2 linked regions of the Homo sapiens genome follow. The protein of the gene in region 1 purifies or fractionates together with the protein of each later gene. This does not show direct contact. Each region holds a gene or a part of one and is shown in the gene's direction. Other genes may lie near its edges.

Region 1 (3,828 bases):
GCTGCTCTGGGGGACTGAGGCAGGAGGATCACTCGAGCCTGGGACCTTGAGGCTGCAGTGAGCCACGATCATGCCACTGCACCGCAGCCTGGATGACAGAGCCAGACGCTGTCTCAAAAAAAAGACTCCAGCACATACCTTCAGTAATATGAATGTGAAATAACAGGACCCATTCCAAAAGCAATACACACAAATTTATCCCATTCTTTTATGTCCCCTTCATTTGCTTGAGTAATGTCCTATTTTTTATGTGCCTCTAGGTGAGTTCATAGCCAATGATCACACATATATCTACTCCTGAAGATACAGGAACCAGATTTTCTCTCAGAAAAAATAATTATTAAAATACCATTACAGTTAACTCAATAAAAGTTTATTTATATCTTTGATGTATAGTCATTTCCTTTTATCGTCTGTCCTGTTGCCTGCTGCCTGCAGCAGCTTTGTATAGCAGTCTCCAAGTCGGGACTCTGATGCCTGATGACACATTAGTATGGTCCAGACGTTCCTTGAAACACTCAGACCATGACATTTGAACATCAAATACATCATTTTTGTCTAAAACATTTTCTGAAATCAACAAAATATCTTTCAAGGTTGTATGTGTTTTGTTTTGGGTGTTTTTTTGTTTTGTTTTGTTTTGCTTTCTACCCATAAAAATGTTAGGAGGTTGGGCACGGTGGCTCATGTCTGTAATCCCAGCACTTCGGGAGGCCAAGGCAGGTGGATCACTTGAGGTCAGGAGTTCGAGACCAGCCTGACCAACGAGGTGAAACCCCGTCTCTACTAAAAATACAAAAAATTAGCTGGGTGTGGAGGTGCACGCCTGTAGTCCCAGCGACTCGGGAGGTTGAAACAGGAGAATCACTTGAACACAGGAGGCAGAGGTTGCAGTGAGCTGAGATCACACCACTGCACTCCAGCCTGGGCACTCAAAAAAAAAAAAAAATGTTACAGGAGGGGTTTTGGTGGTGTTTTTGTTTTTTACATTATAGAGAAAGACATGAGGGGGAAAATGGGAATTAGAGAAAAGAAGAAAAATTAACACTCAGCTTTGCTTCCCTGTTTACCTATATGCCTCTTTCCCATTCCAAACTGTCACAACCACTGTTAGCATAGATGTTTGATTACCTGTTGGCCCTTGGACTTTCAAAATTAAACACAAATTAGAAATAAATTTAAATACCTTCACTACTTTAAAAAGCAAAGAGTCCTCAGGGACTTTTTAAAAATTTATTTATAGTATTTGCTATTCTTTTCTCTTACCTTATTAGGTACAAATCAAGACCTACCAGCTCCTACATTCCATCTTTCAGTATCCAAATCCAGCTGTTTCCTACCCATACATTTACTCTTTAGCATCCTGTATCATGGAAAAACTGCAGGAAATAGACAAGAGAAAACCTGAAAACACTGCTGAGCTTGAGATCTTCCAAGAAGGCATAAAGGTCTTAGAAACACTGGTTACTGTTGCTGAAGAACACCATCGTAAGTGTCAGCACTAAATTCATACTCAGTCTCAACAAAAATCAGAATTTTACTGTTATTTAAATTGCAAAACAATCAGTCACATTATATCTGTATTTCACATTCATTGAAAGGTGTTATGTTAATCCCAAGTATTGATATTATTTAGTATTAATTTAGAAGAGATTGGACGAATTGTTTTCTTTAGTGGGGAAAAATGTATACAGATCAAGTGCATTTGCAGGCTTTTGTTAGAAACATTTATGTCACTGAACTTATATTATTTGTTTACTTTCTAGGCGCTCAGCTGGTGGCCTGTCTTTTGCCCATCCTCATTTCCTTCCTTTTGGATGAAAATTCTCTGGGATCAGCAACTTCCATAATGAGAAATTTACATGACTTTGCTCTACAAAATCTCATGCAAATTGGACCTCAGTATTCATCTGTTTTTAAAAGTTTAGTGGCTTCTTCTCCAGCCCTAAAAGCCCGCCTTGAGGCTGCTATAAAGGGCAATCAGGAAAGTGTCAAAGTCAAGATACCAACATCTAAATATACTAAGAGTCCTGGAAAAAACTCAAGCATCCAATTAAAGACCAGTTTCCTCTGATTTTTTTTTTGGAATAGTAAGCACCTTAATATAATAAATACTTGATCATTGCCTTTGGTGACAAAAGGGACATTGTAGACACAAGTGCCCTTAGAGGTCTAGTTGATTGTTTTACCTTAAATAGCTGTGACTCTTCAAAGTAACAGCATACTTAACATTTTTGTGTGTGTGCGTGGGGTTTGTGTTTTGTTTTGTTTTGTTTTTCTATTTAAAAAGACAATGGAGCTAACTTGCCAGGAATTTTAAGAAAGTGCTAAAGAACTAAACTTACTAAACAATCCACTGCTTTAAAAATGAAATGAATTTCTTCTAACAGTCCATACATATGTGGTATACTTAATACTGTGACAGATATAAATATGACTCTAGTGTAAATTATCTGCACTAATATTGTATCCCAATTGCTGATTTAAAATTCTGCTTTGGCCCGGCACAGTGGCTCATCCCTGTAATTCCAGCACTTTGGAAGGCCAAGGCGGGCGGATCACGAAGTCGGGAGTTTGAGACCAGCCTGACCAACATGGTGAAACCCCGTCTCTACTAAAAATACAAAAATTAGCCGGGTGTGGTGGCACACACCTGTAATCCCAGCTACTCAGGAGGCCGAGGCAGGAAAATCGCTTGAACCTGGCAGGCAGAGGTTGCAGTGAGCCAAGATTGTGCCACTGCACTCCAGCCTGGGCGACAGAGTGAGACTCCATCTAAAAAAAAAAAAAAAAAATTCTGCCTTATTCAGTAATTGTATTAAACTTTCTCTGATTTCTCCAAGAAGATAAAATGATTGGAGAGCTATTTAGGAAACCTGGTCTAGGATTATCCAGTATACAATAGTACAAATTACTTACAGCCTTACAGTGCAACATAAGATTTGGTGTCTATATCATGGTTTTCCACCATCTTTTGGTTTAGTTTATATTGGGTTCAGAAATTGAGTCTTACTCATTTTAAATAGAATAAGCCATTTCCACTATTTTTCAAATGGATTTTTCTGTTTACCTCTGTTCTTACCAATTTTGTTCATTTTCATTTGTGGCAAACATTTGTATCAATGAGTTTTAACCTAGGTTCATATCTACATTGTATTTAGATCAACTATGGGTTTATATAAATGCCAAATTTAGTACAACAAATTTAGGTCATCAGGTGAATACAAGTATTTTTTTTAACAGGAAACATTTTATTATAGAAAAAAGATTAATGATAAAGTCATATTGGTTGAAAAATATTTTTTAACTGTGTTCATGATTGTTGATTCTCCTTCTACTTCAGTGTTATACTGTGTGAATCAAGCACTGTGTCAAAACAGAGCATTTCCCTCTTAAAAATTACAAACCGAAGTGATAGAAGCATGTCAGAATTGAGAAGACATTTTGAAGCAAGAACAATGTGATGTACCTATTTTATTATGTTTGTATATAAATACTATTGTAAATTGTTCAGAGTGAAAACATTTGACAAACTCTAACACTACAATCATTTTTTCTAAATTACATAAATAAAGCTAATTTTCATTATCATTCTTGTATTTTTAAATTATTTTACCAACAAAAGATGGCAGGTTGGTTTCTCTCACATGGATTCCAGAAAATCAGCCTTTTTTCTCAGAAGAGCCCTTTCTTTGGAGCATTATTTGTGATGGTTTAGATTCTCTGTCTCTTCCTAAGTGTCTCTAGGCATTGAGTGTATATTTATTGTTCCCTTTACCTAAAATGTCCTTTTCTCTCCTGTCTTCTGTCTGGTGATTGCCCACTCCT
Region 2 (3,828 bases), on another chromosome or scaffold:
GGTAACATAGATGAGTGAAGAGAACCAGTGTAATGTGATGGCGAGTGGTGGGGACTGTGGAGAATTGGAGTCACTGCCACTAAGCACCAGTTATTTGGTATCCTACAGGAATATGGGCCCAGTGTTAGCAAAACTTTCTCTTTTTTTTCTTTCTTTTTTTTTCTTTTTTTGAGGCAGAGTTTCGCTGTGTCGCCCAGGCTGGAATGAAGTGGCGCGATTTCGGCTCACTGCCGAATCAAGCGATTCTCCTGTCTCAGCCTCCAGAGTAGCTGGGATTATAGGCACCAGACACCATGCCCTGCTAATTTTTTTATTTTTGTATTTTTAATAGGGATGGGGTTTCTCCATGTTGGCCAGGCTGATCTCGAACTCCTGACCTCAGGTGATCCACCCACCTCGGCCTCCCAAAGTGCTAGGATTACAGGCGTAAGCCATCGCGCCCAGCCAAAACTTTCCATTTTTAAAGAGAAGCTGGAAAGCCAGATTAATACATGAAATATTCTAGTTTTTTAAATGTTGTTAAGTTATTTAAATATTTGAGAAAAGAGAAAAAGAGCTCTAAAGCCACTTGTTTCCAAGCTATTCATGGTAGACCACCAATTTCCAAATGCTTGATGAGTAGTGCTCACTGCTAATCACTCCATTATTAAATTTTCACTAGTTTATGGTAAAATCTTTTAAAAGGACAATAAAATGAATTTTTCTATAAAGCTAACTAAATCTACCCAATATAAAGAACTGCTTTCCCCCTGGTGATTATATTCTTACATATTTTGTTAAAATACCCTTCATTTATCTTTGTATTTGTTAAAATATCTTTTATGAAATAATAGTATTGTTTTAAATACATTTAATTGAAAAATTAAGAGTTGGTGACTTAACACTGTCTTGTTGCATTTAGTTTTGTTTTACTTATTTTTGAACTCCAAATGACTGGGCATTGCTGCTAGGACAATGGCAAGTCACTGAAGGTTTTATTTAAGCACTATTGTGTTGACATAACCCTGGACTCCAGCAGTGATGTGGAAGATTTGTTGGTTGAGACTAGAGTCCCAGAAATAATCGAATATGAAAACCCAAGGGAACTTCTGCCTTACTCCTTCATTTAATGACTGAGGACACTGAGATACAGTAGGGAAGTGAATTGTCCACAGTCACCGGGGGAGGTAGTAACAGAGCCACAATTACATCCTGTTTTTCTGACATGAGACAAGTGTTTCAACTGCCCCAGTCCTTTCTGCATCAGCCACACAGTATGCTGAGACACTGAAGTGCCCAACTGTTGGAAAGCTTAGTAAAGGGAAGACTTCAGGATAACAGAATAGGTGATTTGTGAAATTGTGCATTTCTAGTGAAACTTAAAGCCCATGTATCATGTTCATTTCATTTTTAAGGTACAGAAGTTTGCCTTTAATTGCTGCTGAGTTAATTTTCTGTTAGGATGTTTCTTTCATGAGTAGGCCTTTAGGTTTAAGAGTATAACATAGTTCACTTATTGTGATATTTGGCTATGTTAGAACCTCAGTTTATTAGCAAATACACCCACTTGACTTTCCCCTTGATACGTCCCAGTTTCCACAGGTGCTTATGTACCTACCCATACCAAAAAATTTTTTTCTTGTCATTTACTCTGTGTATGTGTGTCTCTGTCCTATTTCCCCACTTGACAGATACATTTTACATGGATAAGATAACATATTTTATTCTCTGGTACCTGTGACTGGCACACAGCAGGGATTTGACTTGATTATTAAAGAATGACAATTGCAATAATGATAACTTTCATACACTAAGCACCATCCATATGCCAGGTATTACTCTAAATGCTTTTTAAAAGACATCATCTGAAGATTAGTCTAAAAATATTCAGTGTTTGCCTCCCATGTGCTGAGTGCTGTGTTGAATGCTGGAGAAATAGCAGTAAATAAAATGGGGTTTACGGCCTGAACTTCAGTGCCTTCCTTCTCAGCACTGCCTCAAACCTCTCCTGATTCATGCTAGCCCTAAATACATGATTGTACATAATTAAGAAAAGAATTACAGTATGTCAGTTGCTGTGAGGGAGAGATACTGAATGTTGGGAGTAAGAAAAGACTTCTTGGATAAAATGAAAATTAAATTATGACATGAAGGGTGAGCTAGGTGTTATTCAGAAGAAAGGCAGGTGGTGTGTTTTATGCAGAGAGAGTATTCAGGGCAGAAGCCCAGATGGAAGGTACCAAACATGGTTTGGTTCAACCAAACTTTGAAGAACAGAAGTCGAGAAAGGCTGGAGCAGAGGAGGGAAAGAGGACAAGATCATGCTACCTGAAGTCTTGCTATTAAACTCCCATGGTGCCTTGTGAAGCTCTGTATAATGCTTTTTATAAACAGCATCTAATCAAGTGTAGTTAACCATATAATTTGTATATTATTTGCCTAAAAAACTGTCTTTTCTGCTCTGTTGAGCTCCTTGAATACAGGGTGCTATGTAGGTCTTATTTCATCACTAGTACTGCCCTAAACTCCTCCCCATATGCTTGTTTTCTATTTTATCTTTAGTAAAGATAAAGATAAAGACATTTTATCTTTAGTAAAGATAAAGATAAAGACATTTTGTCTTTACTAAAGATAAAGATATTTTATCTTTAGTAAAGATAAAGATAAAGGTATTTTGTCTTTAGTAAAGATAAAGATAAAGGTATTTTGTCTTTAGTAAAGATAAAGATAAAGGTATTTTATCTTTAGTAAAGAAAATGAATGCTTTTCCGACAGGCCCACCTACCTGTAAGCACTATACATAGTTTCCTTACTGAGTTGAATTTGTAGTATTTCATTTATTTATTCATCCATTTGATGGACATAAGTGTGTGCCAAGAAAACTTAGGAAAATGTAGGAGGTTCCTCATGGGCTAATTCTTGATCTAGACTTAAAGCTAGGCATAACTGAGACCAAAAAATCTCACCTGCAAAGCAATATATTACAATTTTAAAACATTTAAATTTTAATGTATTGGGTTATGACTTTTTTTTCGTTTTTGTGGTTTAATTATGCCAGTATTTCAAAACCTGCTTTTGTTTTTCCCGACCCAGCCCATCTGCCAAGCAGCCTATCAGAATGACTTTGGACAAGTGTGGCGGTGGGTGAAAGAAGACAGCAGCTATGCCAACGTTCAAGATGGCTTTAATGGAGACACGCCCCTGATCTGTGCTTGCAGGCGAGGGCATGTGAGAATCGTTTCCTTCCTTTTAAGAAGAAATGCTAATGTCAACCTCAAAAACCAGGTGAGGTCATGACATGAATGGAGAGTGTAATTGTTCATGATAATTCTTTTCTCTTTGAATCACTAGAAGTGGTGCATGTCATTTTTTAAATTGCTTGCAGCTCCTAATACGAACAATTATCTTAGCCTACTTTAGAAAGACTGACACATACCAAGGACATTTTATTAGGCTAAACAGCAAAATAAAACATAGTTCAATCAGCAGGCATAATTTGTGATAAATTATGTCTTTTTACCTCTGGTTCACTTATTTGGCTGGATAGAGCTTCTTTCTTTTCCTTCTTCCTCTCTTCATCCTCCTCTTTCTTCCTCTCCCCTCTTTCTCATTACTAACACAGAAGCAATGGCAAAGATTTCTTGGAAAAGAAATGCTGTTTCATTAGTTAGATTTTTACCTGCTATATTAATGTCCTGATCTCCAGAGGATCCTATAGTGTTCTTGTAGAATGAAAGAGTACTATTGAGAAATTTACCAAGGACAAATAAGCTCATGAGCCAGAGGTTACTTGAAGTCACACAAAAAGGTGTAAAGAATATATTTAAAGATGCAATATTAGCTACTTTG

What was found.
Region 2: the proteins of HEATR5A (region 1) and ANKRD22 purify together in Homo sapiens (co-immunoprecipitation; one large-scale study listed by IntAct). This does not show direct contact.

Annotation. Positions count from the first base shown.
Region 1 is NC_000014.9:31,291,551-31,295,378, reverse strand, and holds the end of HEATR5A (HEAT repeat-containing protein 5A), read left to right. Parts: intron 1-1,274; coding exon 1,275-1,488; intron 1,489-1,766; coding exon 1,767-2,074; 3' UTR 2,075-3,591; downstream 3,592-3,828.
Region 2 is NC_000010.11:88,831,271-88,835,098, reverse strand, and holds part of ANKRD22 (ankyrin repeat domain-containing protein 22), read left to right. Parts: intron 1-3,072; coding exon 3,073-3,264; intron 3,265-3,828.